3 linked regions of the Homo sapiens genome follow. The protein of the gene in region 3 interacts with the protein of the main gene of each other region in a pairwise test. Each region holds a gene or a part of one and is shown on either strand. Other genes may lie near its edges.

Region 1 (7,999 bases), on a different chromosome or scaffold from region 3:
GTGTTTAAAGATGGTCAGACTCTTTCAGACACCTACCTGAGAGTGAAAAGTGGTTCCATGTACAAGGAGAGAGGTTCCTGATGGCAATAAGAGGCTGGAGTACATTTTAGGGAGTGGAGAGTGGTTATTCTAAACTTTCTAATTTAAATCAGTGAACTTGCGTTACTTTGAATTCAAAACTTTTTTCCACAAAAATGGAAATTAGGGGCATTAATTTCTCAACTGTCACATCAAGTTTTGGGTAGGGAAAGCAATTGGAAAAAACAACTGGTTGTTTGCTTTTTTTTGAGATGGAGTATTGCTCTGTTGCCAGGCTGGAGTGCAGTGGCATGATCTTGGCTCACTGCAACCTCTCTCCCAGGTTCAAGCAATTCTCCTGCCTCAGCATCCCAAGTAGCTGGGATTACAAGCGCACGCCACCACACCCAGCTAATTTTTGTACTTTTAGTATAGACAGGGTTTCACCATGTTGGCCAGGATGACAACTGTTTTTTAAAAATAATCGAGGGAGTCACTTAAGATGGAAAACATTACTGATGACCAGAATAGCTCAAAAAGAAACAGCATTTACCTCTCCAGAGGAAGGGTACACCAAGCTTGCAGCTGCCACTGCCAACCAGGCCTTGATCCTGGCTGTGAGATCCCTCGCAGTCCCCTTATTTTTCTGAACCTGTTTCCTCATTTGACAATTCTACCATTCACAGTGATTGTTGAAATTAAATGGGTATATGTGAAAATGTTTTCAGCTGGGCGCAGTCGCTCATGCCTGCAATCCCAGCACTTCGGGAGGCCAATGTGGGCAGATCACTTGAGGTCAGGAGTTCAAGACCAGCCTGGCCAACATGGTGAAACCCCATCTCTACCAAAGATATAAAAATTAGCCAGGCATGGATGGTGGCAGGTACCTGTAATCCCAGCTATGCGGGAGGCTGAGGCAGGAGAATTGCTTGAATCTGGGAGGCAGAGGCTGCAGTGAGCCGAGATGGTGCCACTGCACTCCAGCCTGGGTGACAGAGCGAGACTCCATCATCTCAAGAAAATGTTTTCAAAATTATATTGCACTACCCCAACATATTAGGTGGTGTCAAATGTGTGTATTTGTATCTTGAGAATACCTGTGCTGATAAACTGTATAGGATGTATTAATTAGGATGGTATAGAACCACAGCAGCTTCAGTCTATAAGGTGGTTTTGTTTAAAAGTAGGGAAGGCTGGGCATGGTGGCTCACACCTGTAATCCCAGCACTTTGGGAGGCCGAGGCGGGCGGATCACGAGGTCAGGAGATTGAGACCATCCTGGCTAACACGGTGAAAAACCCTGTCTCTACTAAAAATACAAAAACAAAAAAACAAAAACAAAAAAAACACTAGCCGGGCATGGTGGTGGGTTCCTATAGTCCCAGCTACTCAGGAGGCTGAGGCAGAAGAATTGCTTGAACCTGGGAGGCGGAGGCTGCAGTGAGCCGAGATGGTGCCACTGCACTCCAGCCTGGGTGACAGAGCGAGACTCCATCTCAAAAAAAAAAAAAAAAGGGAAAAGGAAAAATCAGAACAAAGAAATTAGCAAAGCAACAGGGCTCATTTCCTGTTTGTTTGGGGTAGGAAGCTGTATTCATTTTATTCTTCTGATTTCCAAAGAAAAACATTTTTGTGGGCCCGGGACACTGTGCCTACTGGGTTAAGTAGGCCTTGGTCAGTAGATGAATAATGAGCTAAGTGATCAAGTTCCCATGTTTCAATCTCACATCTATAACTGAAAAATGTATATCCATTCAATGGGGACCCTTTTTCTCACACACAAAGCACATGTTTACAGCAGACAGGCTGAGAAACATATCATCTGCAGCCAAACAACTAAAAAAAAATACCATGACACAGTCAAGAATCATAAAGTTTACTGTTTCTTTTCCATCATTTGGCACATATCCAAGGCACATTAGAAAATTAGAAATCATAAATTACTTTGTAGAAAAATAATCCCTCCCTTCCTTCTGTACATACACAAGTATTTCCAAGAACATGGACAAAACCATTTCCCTATCACAAGGTCATTTGAAAACGGACTCAGGACAAACCCATATACGTGTAGCTCTAGGCCAATAACATAAAAATAACAGTATAATCTATAGAAATTTATAAAAAGGAATAAATGGCAATAAATTCTAACCGAAAGTAACTCTGACCTGGTTTGTGCTGTTAAGTTTTGAATTTGAATCAAAAGACTAAGAAAAGATGTGCCAAATCTACTCTCTAATCCAGTAACCATCCCGTCAGGTGTGAGTGTGACAGACATTCAAGGGAGGTTCTCAACAAAAAGGGATGTTTCTAGAAATACTGCTACAGGTGCACGTGTAGTAACCGAATATCTGTACCTACTTGTTAGAAGGAAAATGATAACCACCCTTTCCCATGTGCATGATGTGGAACAGGTCTGATGCATCCTTTCACTAAAATGAATATCAAAATGGGATTGAGGCATCTTTTGGTTCGAGTGTTGCTTTGCAAAGAAACATTGTCCAGCTGCTGCTTTCTTCCTTCAGATATGACATTTCAGCCTGGCCTCTACAGTACCATGAAACCTAAATTACTTACTTCTCTCCAGCTTAATCCTAGGTGGAGGAATTCTAGCTGTGGTTTGTGAATGTACACAGGTCAGAGAGGTTTAGCACCTTTTGGGAGGAGGAGGTCAGAATGCGGTGGTGAAACCTCTCCCACTGTGACCAACAAACCCTCATACTTAAAAAGAAGCATGCACCTCTGGCTTAAGGATCTGGATGCTACTGGAATTTTTGTCTGTTTCAATTGTATTCATTAGCTTTGAAGAGGAGAGAGATGGTGGTGGTTAACTTTTTTGTTGCATTCTTTCCTGCCACAGAAAAGCTTTCAGGAACTTGGTGCTGAAGACTTCTCAAGCCAGTCTCATGGAAGCACATTTAGTTCTCAGATGTGTTCACGCTCAGCATCATCTTGTTGCATCCTTGCTTCCTAGCAGTGGGTTCAACAACTCCTCATTCCTGTTAGGACCGGGAAGCACTAACCTCTTGGGGAGTGGAGAGGGGGCCAGCAGCCTCCGGGCCCTGGGACACGACCGCATCCTCTACCGTGTGTCTCCGCAGCATCCGTCTGTGTCCAGGGCCAGTCTGTGTCAGTCCAGGCCTCTCTGGCCAGTCGCTGTTGCCTTTCTCAGCAGCATGAGATCCACTCTGAGCTGGCAGGTTATTCTGTCTCAGTGTGACACTTTGCCTCCCTGGCTAAAGAAAAAGTACATTTTTAACCGTTGACGTCCTCACTGTACTGGAAGCCACAACCATGACAGTGACAGCTGCCCCTTAGTGCCTAGTGTCACATAATGTGCTCAGTGCTTGACAGGCATAATTTCAATTCTCACATCCCTGTCGTGGTAACATGGCATGTGCATACTACATGTGTCAGAGTAAATGTTTCACTTGTTTTCACAATCTTTATGACTCTAGGAGGCATGTACTACTATTGTTATCCCCGTTTTACACCTGAGGAAACAGGATCAGCAAAGTTAAGCCACCTGCCTAAAGTCCTACAGCTAGCAAGGGAAAAGCTAGCACTTGATGGAACTCAGGCAGATTTCAACGATTCTGGCTTTCCCACAAAGCAGCAGGTCTCCTAGCAACACCACATAAGACTAAATATGGTATCAAAATTAGTCATGTTAATTAAAATCATTTTAATTATCTAAAACAATTTAGAACTTTTGTGTATTTGTTCCAACAAGCCTATGCTACATATGCTATAAATTCTCATCAGCAACAAGGAAAGCTGTGGTTCTGAGAAGAATCACTGTCTCCGATCACAGGTTTTCAATCAAGCTTCTGAGTGATTTAAAAATGCAGTAGGGTCCGGGCACGGTGGCTCACACTTGTAATCCCAGCACACTGGGAGGCCAAAGCGGGCAGATCACTTGAGGTCAGGAGTTCAAGACCAGCCTGGCCAACGTGGTGAAACTGCGTCTCTACTAAAAATACAAAAAAATTAGCCAGGAATAGTGGCACATGCCTGTAATCCCAGCTACTCAGGAGGCTGAGGCGGGAGAATGCTTGAACCCGGGAGGTGGAGACTGCAGTGAGCCGAGATCGTGCCACTGCACTCCAGCCTGGGCCACAGAGCAAGACTCTGTCTCAAATAAATAAATAAAAAAATGTAGTGGGAAGATGGCCACATAAAGAATTGTCTGAGCAACTGTACACCATACTTGGAGACATCATTTACCCATCTATATACAAACTGTCGTTTTCTTTCTTTGGTGATTAAAACCATAGTGAAATGTGGGATGTTTCATCTCCTATAAGCACCAAGACCTGTGGTTTCCCACACATGTAACACTTTCCACTCCTCTGCTCAGAAATGTACTTTTAGTTATAACAATCAGTGAAGTCTGTACTCTACACTGTCCCATGAAATAATTCCAGTTTTAACTGCTGCTAACTCATACGGCGCACGGAATAATGAAGATGACGATCAAGGAGACGTGTTTACCATGGATTACTTTTGACAAAGCCGGGCTTTAGAAAATATGATTAAAAGCCAGTGTTTAATAACTTACCTCATGCAAAGAACCTTCGGTTAAATTAGGGACACTTCTATCTCTTGCCATAATCTCCCTTGAAGTCTTTCCCCTAAAACCCAAAATAAACGAAAATAAATATTTGGGACAGTGGCATGAAACACTCTGGTTGGCCACAAGGTGGCAGCATTTTTGACATTAGTAGGTGCAGATTTGTCCATAACCAATTACAATTGAAGCAGCTTACGTGCAGCTTGGAGTAAACTAGGGGCAAAAGCACAGAAATCAACTTGAGTTTCATACTCACTTAAACTGACCAGCTGAGTGGACAAAGTAAAACTGTCTTGTAAAAGGCTCATCTGGTAGATCATACAGTTTTGAGTTCCCTGTAGATAAAAAGATAAACATCTAAAAACTTCAAAAACAGTTGTAAAGATTATTTTAAAATTACAGCACAGACACAATCTTTCTATTCTCAGATTTACAAAATTTAGAAACTGAAGCACTGAATTTGCTTAAAGAAACACAGCTAGTACCTATTTATAACAGGTTGAGTATCTCCAATCCAAAAATCTAAAGCCTAAAATGCCACAGGCTGGGTGCAGTGGCTCATGCCTGTAATCCCAGCAGTTTGGGAGGCCGAGGTGGGCATATCACTTGAGGTCAGGAGTTCAAGACCAGCCTGGGCAACATGGAGAAACCCCATCTCTACCCAAAATACAAAAACTTAGCCAGGCGTGGTGGCACGCACCTATAATCCCAGCTACTCAAGAGGCTGAGGCAGGAGACTCGCTTGAACCCAGGAGGCAGAGGTTGCAGTGAGCCGAGATTGCACCACCACACTCCAGCCTGGGCGACAGAGCAAGACTCCATCTCAAAAAAAAGCTACAAAATCCGAGACATTTTGAACTCTTTGACTTCATGCTCAGAAGAATCTGATTTCCTGATTTGGATCCTCAACCAATGAGTATAATGCAAATATTCCAAAACCCAAAACACTGCTGGTCCCAAGCATTTGAGATAGGGGGTAGTCAGCCTGTATTATGAGAACCCCCATGAAATAGAAAAATAAAACCTTAACTCCCTTAACTCCCCCAGCCACAACCAATTACGGTGAGACAGTCTCAGGGTTATCGAGATATGTGAATGGGTTTATCCATATTATTGTATTGCATTATTGCATACCTCACTGGATAATATTTCATATTGTAAATTAAAAAAAAAAGTAGAACAAGGACCCCTTCTAAACTTTTTAAAAAGAAGAAAATACTTCAGTCTCACTGCTGTTCGGCAACTGCTGTTTTAATTATAATCAACCTCCGTACACGTACAAACTTAAAAAAAAATCTTGAGGCCAGGCGCGGTGGCTCACACCTGTAACTCCAGCACTTTGGGAGGCCAAGGAGGGCGGATCACTTGAGGTCAGGAGTTTGAGACCAGCCTGGCCAACATTGTGAAACCCTGTCTCTACTAAAAATACAAAAATTAGCCAGGCATGGTGGCACGTGCCTGTAATCCTAGCTACTCGGGAGGCTGAGGAAGGGGAATAACTTGAACCCAGGAGGCAGAGGTTGCGTGAGCTGAGATTGCACCACTGCGCTCCAGCCTGGGTGACAGAGTGAGACTCTGTCTCAAAAAAACTAACTAAATAAAAAATCTTGGTGGCTCACACCTGTAATCTCAGCACTTTGGGAGGCCAAGGCGGGCAGATCACGAGGTCAGGAGATGGAGACCATCCTGGCTAACACGGTGAAGCCCCTCTCTACTAAAAATACAAAAACAAAATTAGCTGGGCGTGGTGGCTGGCACCTGTAGTCCCAGCTACTTGAGAGTGGGAGGCAGCTACTTGAGGCAGGAGAATGGCGTGAACCCAGGAGGCAGAGCTGGCAGTGAGCTGAGATCACACTACTGCACTCCAGCCTGGGTGACAGAGCGAGACTCTGTCTCAAAAAAAAAAAAAAAAAAAAAATCTTGAAAGGTAGCATTTACCCTGGATGTCCAGGAAATGCCCAGAACACCTGACTTTGGAACATGAGGCATGAAAGAAACTATCCCAGAGACTGTTCCCCATCTCCATAGGCAGACACCTGAACCTTCAAGGTAGTGTTGACAGTTTCTATCCTATTTCCTCAGGAAACATCATTACCATCAACCAGAAAACTAGTAACAAAAAAAGCTTACCCATAGTCTGATAAATTGGGAGGTAACATACATTTCTTTGGTGCCTGTATCTCCTCCAGGCATGATTATAATTACACTTTACATATACAATTAAATGAACACCAGCAACTACTCATGAATGTCTAAATATACCCAACTTGAGCGTGACAGAAAGAACGTAAACTCTTACATTTTTTCCTGATCTTAACAGTGACATACTCCTTGCGGTCAGTTTCAGCCACATCATCTAATGAAGCAACACAGCTTGGTACCACCTGAAGCAATTCCATTATTTTTGAATTCTGCAATTTGAAAGGGAAAAGGAACAGTAATGTTTTTATTCTTTTTTAATAGGTTATTATTTGTTTTTGATCTAAATGTCAGTATTAGTGTGACTGGGCAGAAAAAGCTCAGAAATAATTACAAATGGAGCTTGGAGGCCATAAAGCCCAGTGGTAAAAGCAGGCCTGCATGGGGAGCCCGGCTCTGCTTTTACCACTGGGTAAAAGCTCTGCCCTCTCTGTGGACTCCACGCTGGGGATTCAACCACTCCATGCAACCAGCTCAACCATAATAAGATCTACTATCATATGCTTATCATGAGGCTGTTGAGGGCCCCCATATAGTAAGTACTCATTGAAACACATTAATTAACTGGGCACGGTGGCTCACGCGTGCAATCCCACCACTTTGGGAGACTGAGGTGGGAGGATTGCTTGAGCCCAGGTGTTCAAGACTAGCCTGGGCAACATAGCAAGGCCCTGTCTCTATTTAAAAATAATAAAAGGCCAGGCGCGATGGCTCACGCCTGTAATCTCAGCACTTTTGAGAGGCCGAGGCGGGTGGATTGCTTGAGCCCAGGCAGTCGAGACCAGCCTGGCCAACATGGCAAAACCCTGTCTCTATTAAAAAAAAATTAGCTGGTCATGGTGGCACACGCCTATAGTCCCAGCTACTTGGGAGGCTGAGGTTGGAGGATCATCTGCGCCCAAAGGTTAAGGCTGCAGTGAGCCAAGATTGCACCATTATACTCCAGCCTGGGCAACAAATTGAGACTCTGTCTCAAAAAATAATAATAATAATAAAATTAAAAATTTTAAAAACCAAAAAAAATTCAACATAATCATTTAAGAAAGTACTAAACTGAGAGTTTAAAATATTTCAATTCTGTCACTGAAAATTAATATAAGGAGGCCAGGCACAGTGGCTCACGTCTGTAATCCCAGCACTTCGGGATGCCAAGGGAGGCGGATCAGTTAGGTCAGGTGTTCAAGACCAGCCTGAGCAATATGGTGAAACCCG
Region 2 (8,618 bases), on a different chromosome or scaffold from region 3:
TTCAAATAAAAACAAGTTAACATTTTTAATCTTTTAAACAATGAATAGCACTAATTTTTTAAAAATCATTTAAATTACTTTTAAAACTTTGAATTATTTTTAGAACTTTAAAATACATAAAATGTTTGCCAACTAAATACATCACACCATTTTAACTCGACAACTGTGTGTATGTGTTTAATACCACTGCTTTTTAAACCTGAGTCTTCAGCCTTACTTTATGGCTCCCTTATATATTAGGAGATAGAGATTTCAGTTTTACATACCCATAGCTAACATGATCATTAAACTTAGGAGTTTTCCCTAATTCTTACATTACTATTTTTAGGTATGTAGTCATCTAAAGTGATAGCTCTTATATTGCATTATTATTCAATATTTTGTTTTATTAAAAAGCTAGCCTAATCTTTAACTATAAATATATTTCACCAAAGGACTAGACTTTTTCACAAAAACTCTATCTAATTATCTGATAATAATGTGGCTGGACCTAGGTGAGGGTCAGATTTAGAGAGAGGCATTTTAGGTAGTTAAAGATGTGTAATAACAAAATAAGAAAGGCCAATCACATTAAAGTTCCTCTGCTCTTAGATTATATGTGATGTGCTTCAGTTCCCTCTGAAGTTTATAAACTTTTGTTTTTTACTGTGTATTATTTACATTTGTCCTCTTAAAGTCATTAGGAACTCATAGGGTTCTATGTTGAATTTGGATCTTTGAGAGATCTACAACACATTTCAAAATGCCTGAACGTATCAGCTTGGACCCAGGTGTAACCAATACCTAATGAAAATCAACACATTAAGCATAAAATAATCATTTTATTTTGTATTAAGAAATGGTATCATAGCACAGTATGAGACTTGGTGGTACCCGAACCTGAGGAGCCTGTTTAAAAATACAAATGCTAAGACTCCACACAGACCTATAGAATTAGAATGTCTAGGATTGGTAACCTGGAATGTATATTTTAATGAACTCTTCAGGTGACTTTTTGGCAACTAGAACTGTGTTCATAAACTATAGCAAAGAATACCAGAATAGGAGTTTGGAAACTGGAAGATAGAAGTTCTAGACCTAAGTTGTCCAATACTTAGTTTGAGTATCACAAATCATACCTATTACTTTTTCATTTGGTTTGTTGGTTGAGTCCAAAAAGAGGAGTACCTGTTATGTTCTGGACACTTCATATGATAGGTACAGAGGGTATAAAGATAAATGAAATGATCTCAGCCCTAAAAGAGCTCTTAGCCCAGTGGTGCAGACAAAATTATACAGAAATAACTATAATAAAATATAATAAGTACAGTAGAGCTATATGAAATACTAAAGTCAGAGAGATGAGGAAACAATTGTTCCTTCCTGGACAGGATAGTGGAAAGCCATTAAGATAAGGTGGCATTCAACCTGGGCCTTGAAGGATGGGTAAACAGTCATCACGTGGATGATAAGGGGAAAGACGTTGCAAGAGGAAGAGGTAATAAAGCAAAGACAGAGAAGCATGAAAATGTAAGTCATGTTTAATAGGCAACAGTCAACCAGTATGTCTAGAGCTTAACTGAGTCGAAAGATCAACTGGAAAGAATGTAGGAAGAGAGGCTGAGGCCAGGTGGTGAATGCTCTGTGGAGTTTTGATTCCAACCCAGCAGGAAATGGCCACCCCTTGATGTTTTTAAGCAGGGGATTGATATCATCAGATTTATGTTTTTTAAAGATCACTATGGCAGTCTAGTGAGAAAAGAATTGGAGAGGGGAGAGACTAGAGATGTGGCCATCAGCTAGGAGGTTATCATAATTCAAATAAAAGTGACAAGGGCATGGCCTGGTTAAAATGGAGGGAAAAGAGAGATGGCAGAGAATATAAAGTATATACAATGTACTTGTTAAATTACAATTGGAAATCAATGCTGTGAAAAGGAATGGAAAGGAAATGTTACCTATGACTAATATGGCTTCTGTAATTGAGCTTCAGGCAGAGTTGGCTCTGAATTTCCTGGTAGCTAGGACAAAAAGAGAAACTAGGCAAGTCACATGGTTCTCACTATCTATCAGAGAGGAGGAAACAACAATTCTTCCAAATAACCTGTTTTGCCTGGCACTACATTTTGAAGGAAATTTCTTGGTGGGATCTTAACTCTAAGTCCTCTTCAACCTCTGAAATTGTAATTCCACCTTAGAATAAATAATTCCAGCAAAAGAACTTACACCACTTTAGTGGTACAGTTAAGAACATGATTGTTAGAATCAGACAGACTGAGTCCATTTCTGGCATTTTTAGCTGTATGAGCTCATCATAAATGTTATTTGACTCTATGAGCCTATTTCCTTATCTGTAAATTGGAAATGTTAATACCACACAGGGTTCTTGGTGATTAAATGAGGTAATGTCTGTAAAGTATTCTTACTTGGATGTAGGAAACCCTCAATATTATATATCATTGTCATCATCATCATCATCATCCGATTACTGCTTAGAGATCGGTTCATGGGGCTTGGAGGTAGAGGACAGTCCCAGATTGGGCCAGTAGACACCAGGGCCAGTCTCTCCTCCATACTGAGTGACCCTGTCTAGGTCGTTTCACCTTTGTTTGTCTCAGTTTTCCAGCTTAAAATAGGGGTTAATAATGCATAATAACACTTCTTAGAGTTTTGAAAATGAGGAAAAAAGCCTCAAATTTCAAAAGGCAAAATAAACACTGTAGAGGAAATTAAAGCTTCGAGTAAGTGAGACCATAATAAGAAATCTGCTTTAAGTGAATACAATTCCCTATGTCTAGGTGAGTTATGTTTTAGAATGACAAAGTAGCTTGTAATTTTACCTAGAAGCTCTCTTGGTGACCTTTGATAAATCTCATGGAATAAAGGACATCCTGAAAACTCAAATTGGAAAGGAGCTGTCACGATCTTCAAATGAGAAGAAAGAAAGATTCTAGATGTTATATTTGATAAACTGAAGGCCTAATTTCAAGCAAAAATCCAGAATGAATTAGTAAAACTGTAGATACTCAGAATAGATCAGTGTATCTTCACTAAACCCTGAGATGAGATGGACTTCCCTAGCCAGTGAGTATTCTGATTTTAGTGGGGGTAGTCAGCAAGTCTTCTTGGTGTCCTTGTGGAAAAAAATGGAGATGTATGATCCAGATGATAGCACAGGTGGTAGAATTCTAGAAGATTGAAATAATAGACCCTAAAGATGTTCATTAATCCATCCAATATGTGTCTGGGCCAAGGTATGTGACACAGGGCTCTGCCTTTGATCCCATTACTTTCAACCCCATTACTTCTCATGACTATGTGAAGACAAATCAAATATCTTTGTCAAAGTTCCAGATGATGTACAGTTTGAAGCAAAAGCAAATTCAGAAGATGGCAAGCTCAAGATTCAAAATGAATCAAGGGATCTTGAGTAAGCGAGAATGCCGAATTGAAATCAATAAAATGAAATTAATAAGGAAAGTGAAGTCCTACATTTAGGTTTCTAAAAAGTCAACTTTACAGATATAGAATGCGGCGAGGGATAGATGAGAGAGGGTAACAATAAGGGTGTATGTAAAAAATACCTCGGGGGTTTTAATTGCTTGATTGGTCACAGCCAAATGTGAGTCAATGATGTGCTGAAGCATCTTTAAAAAATCAATGCAAGTTGAGTTGTTATTAGTAGGAGTACAAAGTCTAAATCAACATAGGCAACAGTCATATTATATTCCATATTGGCCATCCCATATCTGTGTTCAATTTCAGGGTTGGACATTTTAACAGATGCATTAATACATTGGAGTAATGCCACAAAGATGACCAGGGTACTGTGGTATTAGAAATCTGATAGTAATGGGCAGTGAAGAGCAAACTTTGCTGGGGATGATTACCCTGGAAAATAGATGACTTTAAAAGGACACCATAGCCATTCTCAAATACTTGGAGGTCTAACATTGCTAAAGGAGTAGGATTTCCCTTTTTCTCTCAAGAGCAGTGAATGGAAATTTTAGAAGTTCTGAGATTTGAATGAAATATGAGGGAAAAGAGTAATGATTAGAGTTGCTCAATAATAGAACCATCTGCCCCATGAAGGAGTGAGTACCCTGACATTCATTCAAGTATTCAAATAGAAGTTAGATGGTCACCATTGCACATGTCCTCTGCTGGCACCTCTTCCTCTTGTCCAACTCCCTTCTGGTCCTGTGACCCTAAAGGTTATCTCATGTCTAGGGCTGCAAACTTGTGTCTCCAGCCCAGACCTCTTCAACTAAGCACCAGGTCTATCCACTTATTTATGTAAGGTTTCTCTAAAGTGTCTGATAGACCTTTCAGATTCACTTAGCCACACATCGTGCAATCTCACCCCAGAACTTGTATTTCCTTCAGTTATCACAATCTTGGTAAATGGCATTTTCACCTGGTTCCTCAGGCTAAAAACCAAAGAATCTTCCTTGATTACTCTTCTTCTAATCCTAGCCTATGCATTCAGTTTATCAACAGATCAAGTGGGTCCTGCAGCCTCATCTCTAAACTAACCCTGAGACTGTTCCCCTCTCTTCATTTCCATGTCTACCATACAATCCAGGCATTGCCTTCGGGTACTTGGACTGCTGTGGGTTTCTCTCCCTCTGTTCATTGCTTCTACTCTCATTTCCCAATTTTTTTTTTACACAGCCACCATCATGATCTTCTTACAACATTAATCAGATCACGTCACTCCCCTGCCTAAATTCATCAATGGTTTCCCATCACACAGGGTAGAATCTAAACTCCTCACCGCATCCCACAAACTCCAACACCCACCATCTGGTCCCTGCCTGCCTTTCAGACCTCCCCTGTCCATACCCCAAGCAAACGGGCTTCTCATCTCCTTGCCGCCAGCTTGTCCTCTCTGTGATGCCTCTGCACTCATTACTCCCTCTGCCTGAAACACTTCACATCCAGATCTTTGCCTGATGGTCCCTTCCTGTCCTCTGAGGATCAGTTTCTCAGATGAGTGGATTTAAAAGAGGTGGTACACACCTTACCACTGTGCCCCTCACTGCCTGCCATACCACCTTGTTTTTCTTTATAGCAGTTATCACCATCTAAACTTCTCTTGTCTTCTAGTTTATTTCTGTCTCCTCAATTCCTACAGGAATGAAAACTCCATGAGAGCAAGCATCTCCTCCCTTTTGTTGACCACTGAATTCCAGTACATGGAAGGGTACCTCATGGCACAGAGGGAGGTCTCAATCAAAATCTGCACGATAAGCTCATAAATCTTCAAATTAACAAAACACTTCCAGTGTAAACCTGTCCGAAAATCATGCTGCTACATTGTGAGCATCACAGAATTTCAGGACCCTGGAGATATCTAGTCTATGCCCACATTTTAATGAGTATTTAGGACCAGAAAAGTCCCTTAGCTTGCCGGATGCCACACAGCTAATTAATAGAATAGCTGAGACTAGGACCCAGCTTTTTAAATTCCAGTTGTGGGTAATTAGACTACTCTGAGGGTGAACATAGGTTCCTTTTCCTATGTCCAACATAGGAACAGATTATATCCCTAGTTATATAACCATCCCTACTTATGCTCATCTTCCTGGCATAGTCAGTAATAGCACTTTCTCTCTCTTTCTGAAGTGTCCCAGATGGGGGATAAATAATCACCCTAACTATATCACAGTTTCTGTAATCCTGAAATAAGTCAATATGTTCCTCCACCTAAAAAGATCTAAAAAATGTGGCTTTCTTCCAATTCTCTTTTTTGTTGCTGTTATTTTCATTATCCAGTTTTTACTTCCTTCTTATTGCTTTATAGAAGAGTATTTGCAGATGTACTTACATAAAGACTATAATATCTTCTGGAATATTAAGTTCTTTGGTCACTTAGCTAATTAAAGCAACAACACATAAAATGATTTCATTAATAACACTTGTGATTTACTACCTTTTGATACTGTCTTTTTAGGATTCAGGCTAAAATCCCAGGCGCTAAGAGGCATGCTGAGTAAACTGATTTCCCACCGGGGACTGGACACAAACAGGAATGTCTGGAGTGGTAACAGCTCTCTTCTTACTCATTACTGCAAATTGATTGTCTTTCCCCCCTCCCTCCAGTACCATAATCTTAGAGACAAACCTTAAAACAGCTGTTTTTAGGCTGTTCCTTGTACTCTTAGGATATTTGAGTCACTTGTGTCAACCACTAAAGTATAGAGAAAAGTGTATTAGATGTGGTTTTTAATTTTGTGTTGCTAAAAAAAGTGCATGATGGTGAGAGCCCAAGTTATCTTTCCCTCTTCGGTGTTCTTCTTCTCTTCTCTGCAATGCTTCTGTAGCTTCTAATGTTCCCCGTGGCTAGGCCTTTCCTGCCGAGTGCTCTGATGCAATAGTGGAAATCGCTTATATGTCCTTGGGTTGCTGGTTGGATTAATCTTTAATAACAATATATAGAATTGTAGACTGATGTTTTAGCATTTTTCCAACACACACAACGTAAAAATAAAAGCAGTCGACCGCACTTATGGTAATCAGTTTTGTATAACTTAAAATAATTAAATAAATGAATAAATCCAAAACAAACATGCAGTACTTTTGTTGTATGGGATTGGTGGGCTGATTTACATGTATGGTTACTAAAAAGTACCAGCATGTTAACTTTATTACAATTTGTATTACTTTCTCTGTAGTTCCTAATGGATTCAATTACGGACTCTGGATATTTGCACTTATGTACTTGATACTGAATGCATAAATAAATGTTACTAAATGTAGAATGTTCTCCCTCTCTTCTCATGCATGGTCTTACCAGAAAACACAAAAGCTCGAAGTGATGAAGTCACTCGATGACATTCTAGGAGGGCTGAGAGCAAATGCTCACCTTATTTCTCTCTAGGACTGTGGAGTCAAACTGCAACCTGGCTTACGGTTTTTCTGGGTCATTAATAGAAAACTGAAAAGTGGTAAACTGTCAATCACTCTTCATATTGTACTCTGTCAGGTGGATGCAGATATTTAAGATAGTTTTTAAAAACTTGAAAGTGATATAAATTCTTACATAAACTGTACGGCAATATGCAACAAAACACTGGCAAAAACAATTGTAATTGCCATGAACTCACCGTTTTAGTAATTACTTATTAAGCACTGACTGTGTGCCAAGCACTTAGAATAGGGCTGTGAATAAGAAAGATGACAATTCCTGCCCTCACCATGTGAAGTCTTCTAATAATTCCTCACTGCTTTTTATACAAGTCCAATTGCATATTTTGTTTCACTGCTACAATCAAACATCAAAGACGAAGAGGTAGAAGTGAATGAAAGGAGTAGCAGTTGGAGAAAAAAAGGAATGATTGCTTATAAAAAGCTGCCTTTTACCAGTTTTACACCTGGGTTCAGTGAATATTTGTGGAGTTATCCTTCTATACAAAGTGGCGTGAAGGTTACAAGGGTCACTTGGCACTGTGCCAACAGCCAGAAACTCTCATCACTGTGCTGGGGAAAGGGCAGGTGGCTATGTGGAAATGCCAACTGAGCAAAGGGTAGCATAAAACAAGAGCCATTGGCAGGGCGCGGTGGCTCACGCCTGTAACCCCAGCACTTTGGGAGGCTGAGGCAGGAGGATCACGAGGTCAGGAGTTCAAGACCAGCCTGATCAACATGGTGAAACCCTGTCTCTACTAAAAATACAAAAATTAGCTGGGTGTGGTGGCACCTGCCTGTAATCCCAGCTACTTAGGAGGCTGAGGCAGGAGAATCGCTTGAAACTGGGAGGCGGAGGTTGCAGTGAGCTGACATCACACCACTGCACTCCAGCCTGGGCAACAGAGCGAGACTTTGTCTCCAAAAAAAAAAAAACGAGCCATGATGCAGGGTTTGAGCAACAGAAGATTCTCAGGGGAGGTGAACTTCACGGCTGGGTCCTGGTTTGGTTTTTGCCACATGAAGAAGGTCCAGCCCGAGATAAAGAAAGAACATGAGCTAAAGTGCCAAGATGTGGAGTGTGAGGCATATGCAGAGAATGGTGAGTTAAACAAGCTTAGATGGGTTGTAAAGTTCTTGGGGTGGGAATGATAGTGCCAGATAAAGCTGGAAAGGTGGGTTGAGATCACAATGGGAAGAAACTTGGATGCCTGTGCCAAGGAGTTTGGGCTTTATTCTCTACATCTCAGAGAGTCACATAGACACAACAAAGGTACAAGATACTGAAGGCTAGACAAATAGAGTGATAATTGTAACCTAACTCCACCCAGGTGCCAAATGACTAGGTCTTTACTAGAACAGCCACAGAAAGAATAGAAAGATGTTCACCTGTCCCTGATCCTTGATAGCCCAGCATGCCAAGCACCCACCATGGATAAGGTGCAGCTAACAGATGATGTGGAGGGAGATTGGACTGGAGCTGGTAACCAACTAGCTGCGGGGCTTCAAGATGAAAGCTGGCCTTGAGAATGAGTGCCTCCTTGAATTTTGCACCCAAGGAAGCTCGGTTGCCTCACCCTAGCCCAGCACTAAGACTCGCTGATCAGCAGGATGCAATGCCATTTTCCAGGACAGAGAGCCCAGAAGAGATTATTTGGGGAAAGAAGATACTAAGCTTAGTTTGGTGCCTGATTTTTTTTTTAATGGTTACTAGATTTAGAAGAGGATTT
Region 3 (9,324 bases):
ACATTGGTTGTTGACCTTGTGGAACTTTTAATTTTAGGGGGAAGGGGTAATATCCATTCATACATGAATAAAAAGATATGCTTAAGTAATATGATTCAAATAATAAAAATGGTGCTTAGGAAATATGAAATTTTATGATGAACATGAAATGAGGAAGTCCCCAAAATACGATATGAGATGACATGAATTAATCAATTTGAGTCAACTTTTGTCAATTTAAGGAGATTCTTGATACTTGATAATGTGACTCATGATTGTTTCACGAGTATAAGAAAGTTGAAGCAAGAGTTACCTTTGTCAGAGATTTCCATCATTCATAAAATGAGCAATAAGAATCACTGTCTTTGAACAAGTCTCTTGAAGAAATTTCAGCTAATTTCATATCCCTGTCCATTGAGCTGTAGCTCGCTAGAACAAAACACAGGTATGAAAATGATTTTTCTTTTTCCAATAGAAAGTGCACATGATGAAATGTGTAGAAAACAAAACTTTAGGAGTTTATTAAATAATCATTTTTAAATGATTTAATCACATTAATTTTAAATGTATGCTTCAAATGGATCTTTTCTGTAAGTTTTTGTAACTGTGCAGCTATGGTTTCACTTCTATTAAAATCAGCAACCCTAAGTGTTTTGTTATTTTTGCCTAAGGACTGAAAAGCTGGTATAAGAAAACCAAAACAAACCTAAAACATTTTGCCGAGCTGCCCCCTCTTCAAATTAGTATTTGGGATGCTTGCAAGAGTGTGGATTGTACTTTGTGTTGACAGCGTGCAGCCCATGTTAGTTTTTACATTATTTATTGGGTATTATCAGAGGAATACATTCTAAAATTTTTGCTTTTTGACCATGATGATTATACATTTACTTTGTAGCACTAATCAAAAGCTTTCTATGACTGCTGGTGAGGTACTTTTCAATATATCTTATCTTTACTATACTTCTCTCTCTTCAGTGAGTTTTATACTCTTTATTTAAAAAACCTCATTACAGGATACAAGTTATTACTGTTTTCAGAGTTTAACCTAGTCTCGAGTAGATTTTATAGATGAGAAATCACTATCTGTTAAGTAAGGTTAAATTACAGAGCATAATTACAGTCTGGTTTATTTGAGGGTCTTGGTGTATAGGGAAGGAATCTTAGTCCTTTGTTGACTTGCTGTGGAAACTCAGGCAATTCTCAGAGCCTCTTTTCTTCACAAGACTAACATAATCTTGTTAGGATTGTCCAGGAACCAGAGTACAGTTGCCTGCGCTGAGTGATAATGTAGGGATGGTGGTGATAATTATTTAGCCTCCTTTTAGCAATGTGTAGAACTAGTCTTTTCTGGAAAAAGAGACTGGAAAGGTAAATCATTGATGTGTATAAGAAAAACCATTAAAGACCTCAGTAGGAGGGTCAAGTCACACGGTGATACCAGCCCACAAAATGCCCCCATCTCCAACTTCGGTACCTTAGAGTGCCAGCGACATGCGACATTGCTGGGATGAGAGCCTAGATCTCAATGGTTTGACTGCTGTATAACTTAGCGCAAACTGTTTTCATATTTTTGACCCTCATTGGTAAAATGAGATTGTTGGATTATACTATCTCTAAGGTTTCTTTCCCCACAAAGTATAAAATCTTGTTTTATATTTGTTTCAAGTAGGAAAAAGAATTGCCTTCTAAACAGCAGGCAGAAGTTAAAACAAAATGCACATACCAAATGCACATATCTCTGTTTTTCCTAGAACAGCTTTTTTTCCCTCCTCTCAATTTTTAGTTTACTATACCTTGCTACTTCATTTTATGATGGTTTAGGTAGCTTAGATGGCCAGAGTAGACTGGATATTCGAGTAGCACAATATGGGCAAGAGTGAATACATAAGTTCTTGGCTCATCTAATTGTTAGTGTTTTTATTGAATAAAACTGCCCTAGAAGTACACCCTGATTTTTTTTAAAATGAGAGTATTATTACATTATTTAAGATAATTTCATTAGGAAAGTTTATTGTAATTGGGTAACAAGCATCTCAGAATTGAGATTCCTTTGTTATATGGAAACCCCTCTTTAAAAGTTTTCTTAGACATTTTTCTCTTTAGAGTGCTAGCAAAATGTAATGACATAAATGGACATCACTGTTTTCTTGATGACTCCATTAAAGAAAATTTCTCTTTGATGGAGAAGGTTGGCTTGTTTGTGTTCTCTGTCCATTCTAGTCATCTTTTTCAATTGCTCTTCTGTTGACTCTCCTTCAACTTTGCTTTCACACTGATTCTTGGTGGTGTATATAGTTCTTCATCAGTCCTTGCCCTGGACCAGTCTTGTGTTCTCTTAACGTCTCATTTTCTTCCCCTGTTGGAATTTTCAAAATTTCCTCCGAATTAATAAAATCAGAACTTTTCAGCATTGCTAGGTACAAAAGTTTTCCATTCCCACACGAGGTTTACCCTTTCCCTCTGCATGGGCTCAGAAGATGCATGCAAGGTGGGTTCAGGAAACACATACAAATAAAACTGACACATTATAGAAAATATTGCACATGTCAAATACATATTTGTTTTCTTGAGATTGGTTTTGATTCTGGTGTTGGTAGAATAAGGTAATACGTGATCACTGGAAAAAATATTATAAGCCAGAAACATAGAAAGGGAGTCCCTCATGATCTTCAGCCTCCAGACTACTTCTGCTATGCCAGTATCATCTCTGTGAACAGTTTGGGGAATATCTCCATGTTTTCTAAGCCATGTAATTACATATTTATAGTTACTCCTTTATCATTCATTTTATTTTATAAAAATGAGAGTATGCAATGGCTTGCTTTTTTCACTTAATATATTTTTATATTATTCCACCTTATTACAAATTGGTCTCATTCTTTTCAATGGCTGATTGTATGATTATATGGATGTCCTACAGTTTAGTTCACCAGTTTCCTCCTCATTCCATTTACTTATGTTTTCAAGATTTTCAGTACTTTACAAGCATAGACATAGGGAACATCCATATACATGGATTTTGTATACTTCTGCCAGAGAGGATATTAACCTCATTGTGTTGTGTGTGTTGCACATATTATTTTCTAGCTTGTCTTTTGGTTTTGCTGCTTTTTACTAACTTTAAATATGAAAGATAAATAAAATGATGTTTCTGAGGTTGGCCACACTATCCAAGAATAGACTCAGATTTTATAAGCAATCTTTGTTTTTAATGCTGCCATTTTAAATCACCGTGAAGGTAATTAATGATTTTGGACAATGACCATCTTAAAATGGGGCATAGAATTTATTTAAGGTTTGTCACAGTAAAAACTATATTTGAGATTGAGTTTCCTTAAATTGAAATTTCAGTTTGGGTCACCATTCCTGAAACCATTTCTGATACATTGTTGAATTACAAGAGAGTTATTCAGTGATCAAATTGACACATTAGGAATGAGAATTCAACATATAGACACATGGCTCTTCAAATTCATCATCATTTTCCCGAAAACTTTTTAGGGTAAATTGAGATTATGTAAATCAAATTTTAATGTGTACTTTCATGGAATTATGAAAGAGATCCTTTTGTAAAGCAAATAATTGCCCCGTAATTCAGCTGGTAAATATGTACTTAAAATATGCAGTACACCTTTCATTACGTTGTTTAAGTCTTCAAATGAAAGTTGCAAGTAAAATCTCAGCTACATAATATTATATTTACCTAGGATATGGGGGGAGGTATTACAGATTCCTTATTCCTTGCCTGTACACCCTTGATTTGGGGAGATTTGAGAAAAATTTAAGTACAGTCTGTAATCCTATGAACTTCATATACACATACAATCTATGTGTTATATTAAGTCTTAAAACTAACCCAATAAGCTTTTTTTCTTCCTGGCTTTGTAGTTTACTTCACCTCGCAGTGGTATCTTCTGAGTAAACCATCAGTCTGTGCTTAGTTAACATGTGGTGAGTGAAGAACAATGTCTTGTGTCTTTTGTGCAAAAATCAAATGTGTTGCCTGATACTAACCATTTTGCTGGAATTCTTTTGCTCTTGTTTAATAAATATATGATTATGCTATGGGTTAATATAAGTATTTTCTGTTCATTCTGTTATATGGATCGATAATAGTTAAAAATTACTACCACCAGTAAGAGTTATATAATTTTAGGAAATTTCATTTCTTTAAAGAGTAATTGAAAGTTTGAAAATTGCTCTTTGAAATTTTGTTAAAGAATCCAAAAAAGTATTTATGTAACTTATTTTCCCTTTTGTTTTTAATTTTCCAAGAATGATCTTTGAAATTATGATTGTGAGAGAGAAATGAAAAATCATTTTCTAGATAAAAATGAAGTGGTATATTCCGTGAGAATTCAAAATCCTGTAAAGCCTGAGTCAAGGCCAGTCAGAAATAATGAAAACTAGTAAGATCAATTTTAAAATATAGCTTCATTACTTCCTGAAATCAGACAGTTTAACACAAGACAACACATTTGTCCTGAGGAGACCGTTAGGCAGCCTACTTTAATTGAATGTGATTCTTCCTGATTAACATATTACAGTGAAATGCAGGCATATGAAATGTTTCAACGCAGTTGACTGTCTTCATCATTTAAACCCTCTCCCCTCATCTCTATGTATTTTTCATGCTATTAGGTTGATTTAGCACCCTCTGAAAATGTACCATACATCTTTACCTCAGCCTTTGCTAGAATTTTCACAAAATCAAAAACAGATCACAATTAGTAGGGCTTCACTATAATTAAAATAAATACTCTCAGTGATTGTTAATATCCAGCTAATAATAGTATCAAGGTTTAAAATGGCAAGATACAACATTTCTCCGTTCTTTTAAGCTTTTATTTATTTATTTATTTATTTATTTATTTATTTATTTATTATTTTTTTTTTTTTTGAGACGGAGTCTCGCTCTGTCGCCCAGGCTGGAGTGCAGTGGCGGGATCTCGGCTCACTGCAAGCTCCGCCTCCCGGGTTCACGCCATTCTCCTGCCTCAGCCTCCCAAGTAGCTGGGACTACAGGCGCCCGCCACTACGCCCGGCTAATTTTTTGTATTTTTTTTTAGTAGAGACGGGGTTTCACCGTTTTAGCCAGGATGGTCTCGATCTCCTGACCTCGTGATCCGCCCGCCTCGGCCTCCCAAAGTGCTGGGATTACAGGCGTGAGCCGCGCCCGGCCTTATTTATTTTTTTTTAAAAAATAAGTAAAGCCTTTATCACCCTGGCTGGAGGGCAGTAGTGTGATCATAGTTCATTCCTGTGTCAGCTCCTGGGCTCAAGGGATCCTCCCACCTCAGCCTCCCAAATAACTGGGACTCTAAGGCACCTATTTTTTTATTTTATTTTATTTTGTAGTGATGGTCTTGCATAGGCTGGTCTCGAACTCCTGGGCTCAAGCGATCTTCCTACCTCAGCCTCTAAGCTTTTTTTTTTTTTTTTTTTTGAGACGGAGTCTCGCTCTGTCACCCAGGCTAGAGTGCAGTGGCGTGTTTTTGGCTCACTGCAAGCCCCGCCTCCTGGGTTCACACCATTCTCCTCCCTCAGCCTCCTGAGTAGCTGGGACTACAGGTACCCGCCACCATGCCCAGCTAATTTTTTGTATTTTTAGTAGAGACAGGGTTTCACCGTGTTATTCAGGATAGTCTCGATCTCCTGACCTCATGATCTGCCCACCTTGGCCTCCCAAAGTGCTGGGATTACAGGCGTGAGCCACTGTGCCTGGCCCTCTAAGCTTTTATCTTTAAAAATCTTCTGTGCCTTCATTTGAGCCTCCTTTTGATTTTAATATATATTATTTGATTTGCCTTAGCGATTATCCAGAACTGTCTTATTTTTGTCATCCACATTACAATGGCTGGCAGTACAATGCATGGTTTTATTAGGTTACTTTGATAATAAATGTGAACATTGAAAAACTGTAAATTCTATAGCTAACCCATTAAGTCTTAATGTTTTCCTTTTAAAATAATACTGCATTGTACTTGTTATTATTGCAGCTGAATATCAATTATCACTGGAAATGTATATTGTGCAGCATTTCTATTAATTGATTAATTGATTGTCTCCTCAACTTTTAGTTTGAAACATTTCAGACATAAGATTTGCAAAAATAGTACAATGAACACCCATATACCCTTCACCTAGTAATGTTTGGCCAGATTTTCTGACTTGCTGTCACTCTTGTTCTCTCTCCATTTATATTATTCCCCATTTGTAACATTTGGCAATTACTTGCCGACATGCTTGCAAGCATTTGACAATTGTAAACATAAACTAAGTACTTTAGCATGTATCTTTAAGAACAAGGACATTTTTCTACATACAGTACAGTTATTACACTCAGGAAGTTTAATATTAGCTAATACTAATATATAGTACATAATACTCAGTTTTTTACAGTTTTCCAAATAATGTCTCCCATAATTTTTTAGAATCCAGGATCCACTTGAGATTTCACATTGCATTTAGTGGTCATATTTTCCTAGTCTTTTTTAAACTAGAAAACGTCTAGCTTTTTTGTTTTTAATGATGCAGCATTGTTGAACTGATCTTGAATTTTGTTTCCCACAACAGATCAAGCTACGGTTTCAAAATAAAAACTGACAAGGAATTTACGTATAACAGAAGATCTTGTTGGTGTCTTCTTTAGGTTCCTAGGACCAACATGATTATTGAACTAGTTTTATAAATAATATACTATTAGTAGTACATTATGAGTAGTGAAATATTTGTTCATTTACAAATTCAGAAGACTAAAACTCCCCCTATCCACTTAATATATATGGAAAGTTTGCCTCTATTAATCTTACTTGGTAATTTATTTTTATGGGATTTTAAACTCATATCTTGATGTGACTACTGGTTTTAGCATTTTCTTTTCCTTTTCTTTTTTTTATATTTGAGACGGAGTTTCACTCTTGTTGCCCAGGCTAGAGTGCAGTGGCGCAATCTCGGCTCACTGCAACCTCCACCTCCCAGGCTCAAGTGATTCTCCTGCCTCAGCCTCCTGAGTAGCTGGGGTTACAGGTGCCCGCCACCACACCCAGCTTATTTTTTGTATTTTTAGTAGAGACCGGGTTTCACCATGTTGGCCAGGCTGGTCTCGAACTCCTGACCTCAGGTGATCCACCTGCCTTGGCCTCCCATAGTGCTGGGATTACAGGCGTGAGCCACTGCTCCTGGCCAGCATTTTCATTTGAGAAACATTATGAGGAAGACTTTGGCTATGTCATAGCTTTTTTTTTTTTTTTTGCCCCCCAGCATGGTCACACCAGCCTAGAGTGCAGTGGCGTGAACACAGTTCACTGCAGCCTTGACCTCCTGGGCTCAAGGAATCCTCCCGCCTCAGCCTTCTGAGTAGCTGGGACCACAGACACATGCCACCACACCTAGCTATTTTTTTTAAAAAAAAGTTTGTAGATACAGGGTCTTGCCATGTTGCCCAGGCTGGTCTTGAACTCCTGGGCTCAAGCAGTCCTCTGACCCTGGTCTCCCAAAAGTGCTGGGATTATAGGCATAAGCCACCATGCCCAGCCAGCATTTCTAATTAATTTATTTTTTGAGACAAGGTGTCACTGTCGCCAAGCCTGGAGTGCAGTGGTACAGTCAGCTCACTGCAGCCTTGACTTCCCAGGCTCAAGCGATCCTCCTGCCTCAACCTCCTGAGTAGCTGGGACTACAGACACACACCATCATGCCTGTCTAATTTTTTCTATTTTTTGTAGCAATGGGATCTCACTATGTTGCCCAGGCTGTTTTTAATTTTTAAATTAAATTTCTTAATTCCAGATGAGACATAAATTTCCACACCAAAATGCTGTTTGTCTTTTGCTATTATGTCATGCTGGGAGAATTGCAATTTGTAGAATAATCAGCACACTGGATAAGAGGAAAGAGCTCTTTCTCATCTTTATTTTTTATTGTTTTTTTGAGGCAGTCTCTCACTCTGTTGCCCAGGCTGGAGAGCGATGGCATGATCTCGGCTTACTGCAACCTCCGCCTCCTGAGTTCAAGTGATTTCTCCTGCCTCAGCCTCCCGAGTAGCTGGGGTTACAAGCACCACCACGGCCGGCTAATTTTTTTGTATTTTTAGTAGAGACAGGGTTTTGCCATGTTGGCCAGGCTGGTCTCAAACTCCTGGCCTCAAGTGATCTTTCCACCTTGGCCTTCCAAAGTGCTAGGATTATAGGCATGAGCCACTGGGTCCAGCCTGTCATCTTTAATTCCAGTCCAATATTTGTGAGATTCAGCCAAGTCAGCGTGTTTACTCCTGGGTTACTGTATAAACTGGTAGCATTCGATATATGGTAAATGGTTGCAGTTCCAAATTTCACTTAGAAATGCCATTTTCCAGGATTGCTGACTATAGGTTGGTTTGCATCATTGCAAGAATGTTAATTTTTAGAAGATACCTTTAAGATTTAGTGTTTAGACAATTTCTACTTTTTTTTTTTTTTTTCAGAATGGGGTCTTGCTGTGTTGACCAGGCTGGTCTCGAACTCCTGGCCTCAAGTGATTCTCCCATCTTGGCCTCTCAAAGTGCTGGGATTACAGTCATGAGCTACCACACCCAGCCTTATTTCTGCCTCTTTACTGCAGTCTCTAGACCATGGAATAGAATTTTATTTCAAACTTGAAAAAACAAATATCCCAAAAAGTCAACCTAAATGTTTTGGATTTTTTTGCCCCCTTTCTTTATTCTCTTTTCCTTTTTCTTTTCCAGTCATGGCTCCGATCTTCATCTTGAAGAAGAGTGACATTGGGTGACTGCTGCTTGGAAAACTGTCCACACTTGCTACTCTTTGAGAATGAAGTTGTCATTCAGGGCCCCTCATGTAGCCAAAAGACCAAGAAAAATCTGGCCCACAGATAAGTTGCAGACTGCCTTTAAAATAGATTTTATCAGTGGAGAAATGGTGATAGTTTTTTCTTCAGTTTTCTCTTGGGAAGAGTTTTATGTTGTTTAAAAGATATTTTGATAACTTAACCTGCTTTATGGGCTTACATAATATTCCTTTCATCCATTCTTTTTAAAGAACGGCTTACCTTTCCTATTTATTTTTAGGGTGATTTTTTAAAAAGACTTGTGCAATACATTTTGAGGTGAAACTTAGTGGATTTTTTCTGATAAATTAGAGCATTTAATTGACTATTTTATTCAGGTTGATCTGTTGAATATTTGCTAAAGACCAGTTCTTTAAGCTAAGACATGTAAAAAATCCCAAATGGCAGTACCTCATTGTTTACTTAGCTTTTGTACTTATATTTTTCAGAGGAAAAAACACTACTGTAAATTGTGAATAGCCAATACATAACTGTATTGTATGCAAATCTGTGATTGTT

What was found. The genes of interacting proteins can lie anywhere in the genome.
Region 1: the proteins of GOLGA4 (region 3) and ANKRD27 interact in a two-hybrid assay, tested with the Homo sapiens proteins (one study listed by BioGRID and IntAct).
Region 2: the proteins of GOLGA4 (region 3) and RTN1 interact in a two-hybrid assay, tested with the Homo sapiens proteins (one study listed by IntAct).

The regions. Positions count from the first base shown.
Region 1 is NC_000019.10:32,595,128-32,603,126, forward strand, and holds the end of ANKRD27 (ankyrin repeat domain-containing protein 27), read right to left. Parts: intron 7,000-7,999; coding exon 6,888-6,999; intron 4,924-6,887; coding exon 4,845-4,923; intron 4,650-4,844; coding exon 4,577-4,649; intron 3,252-4,576; coding exon 3,018-3,251; 3' UTR 1,879-3,017; downstream 1-1,878. UniProt on the Homo sapiens protein: May be a guanine exchange factor (GEF) for Rab21, Rab32 and Rab38 and regulate endosome dynamics.
Region 2 is NC_000014.9:59,594,105-59,602,722, reverse strand, and holds the end of RTN1 (reticulon-1), read left to right. Parts: intron 1-5,935; coding exon 5,936-5,978; 3' UTR 5,979-6,740; downstream 6,741-8,618. UniProt on the Homo sapiens protein: Inhibits amyloid precursor protein processing, probably by blocking BACE1 activity.
Region 3 is NC_000003.12:37,357,376-37,366,699, forward strand, and holds part of GOLGA4 (golgin subfamily A member 4), read left to right. Parts: intron 1-3,867; coding exon 3,868-3,897; 3' UTR 3,898-3,930; intron 3,931-8,704; coding exon of another isoform or gene 8,705-8,728; 3' UTR 8,729-9,324. UniProt on the Homo sapiens protein: Involved in vesicular trafficking at the Golgi apparatus level. May play a role in delivery of transport vesicles containing GPI-linked proteins from the trans-Golgi network through its interaction with MACF1. Involved in endosome-to-Golgi trafficking.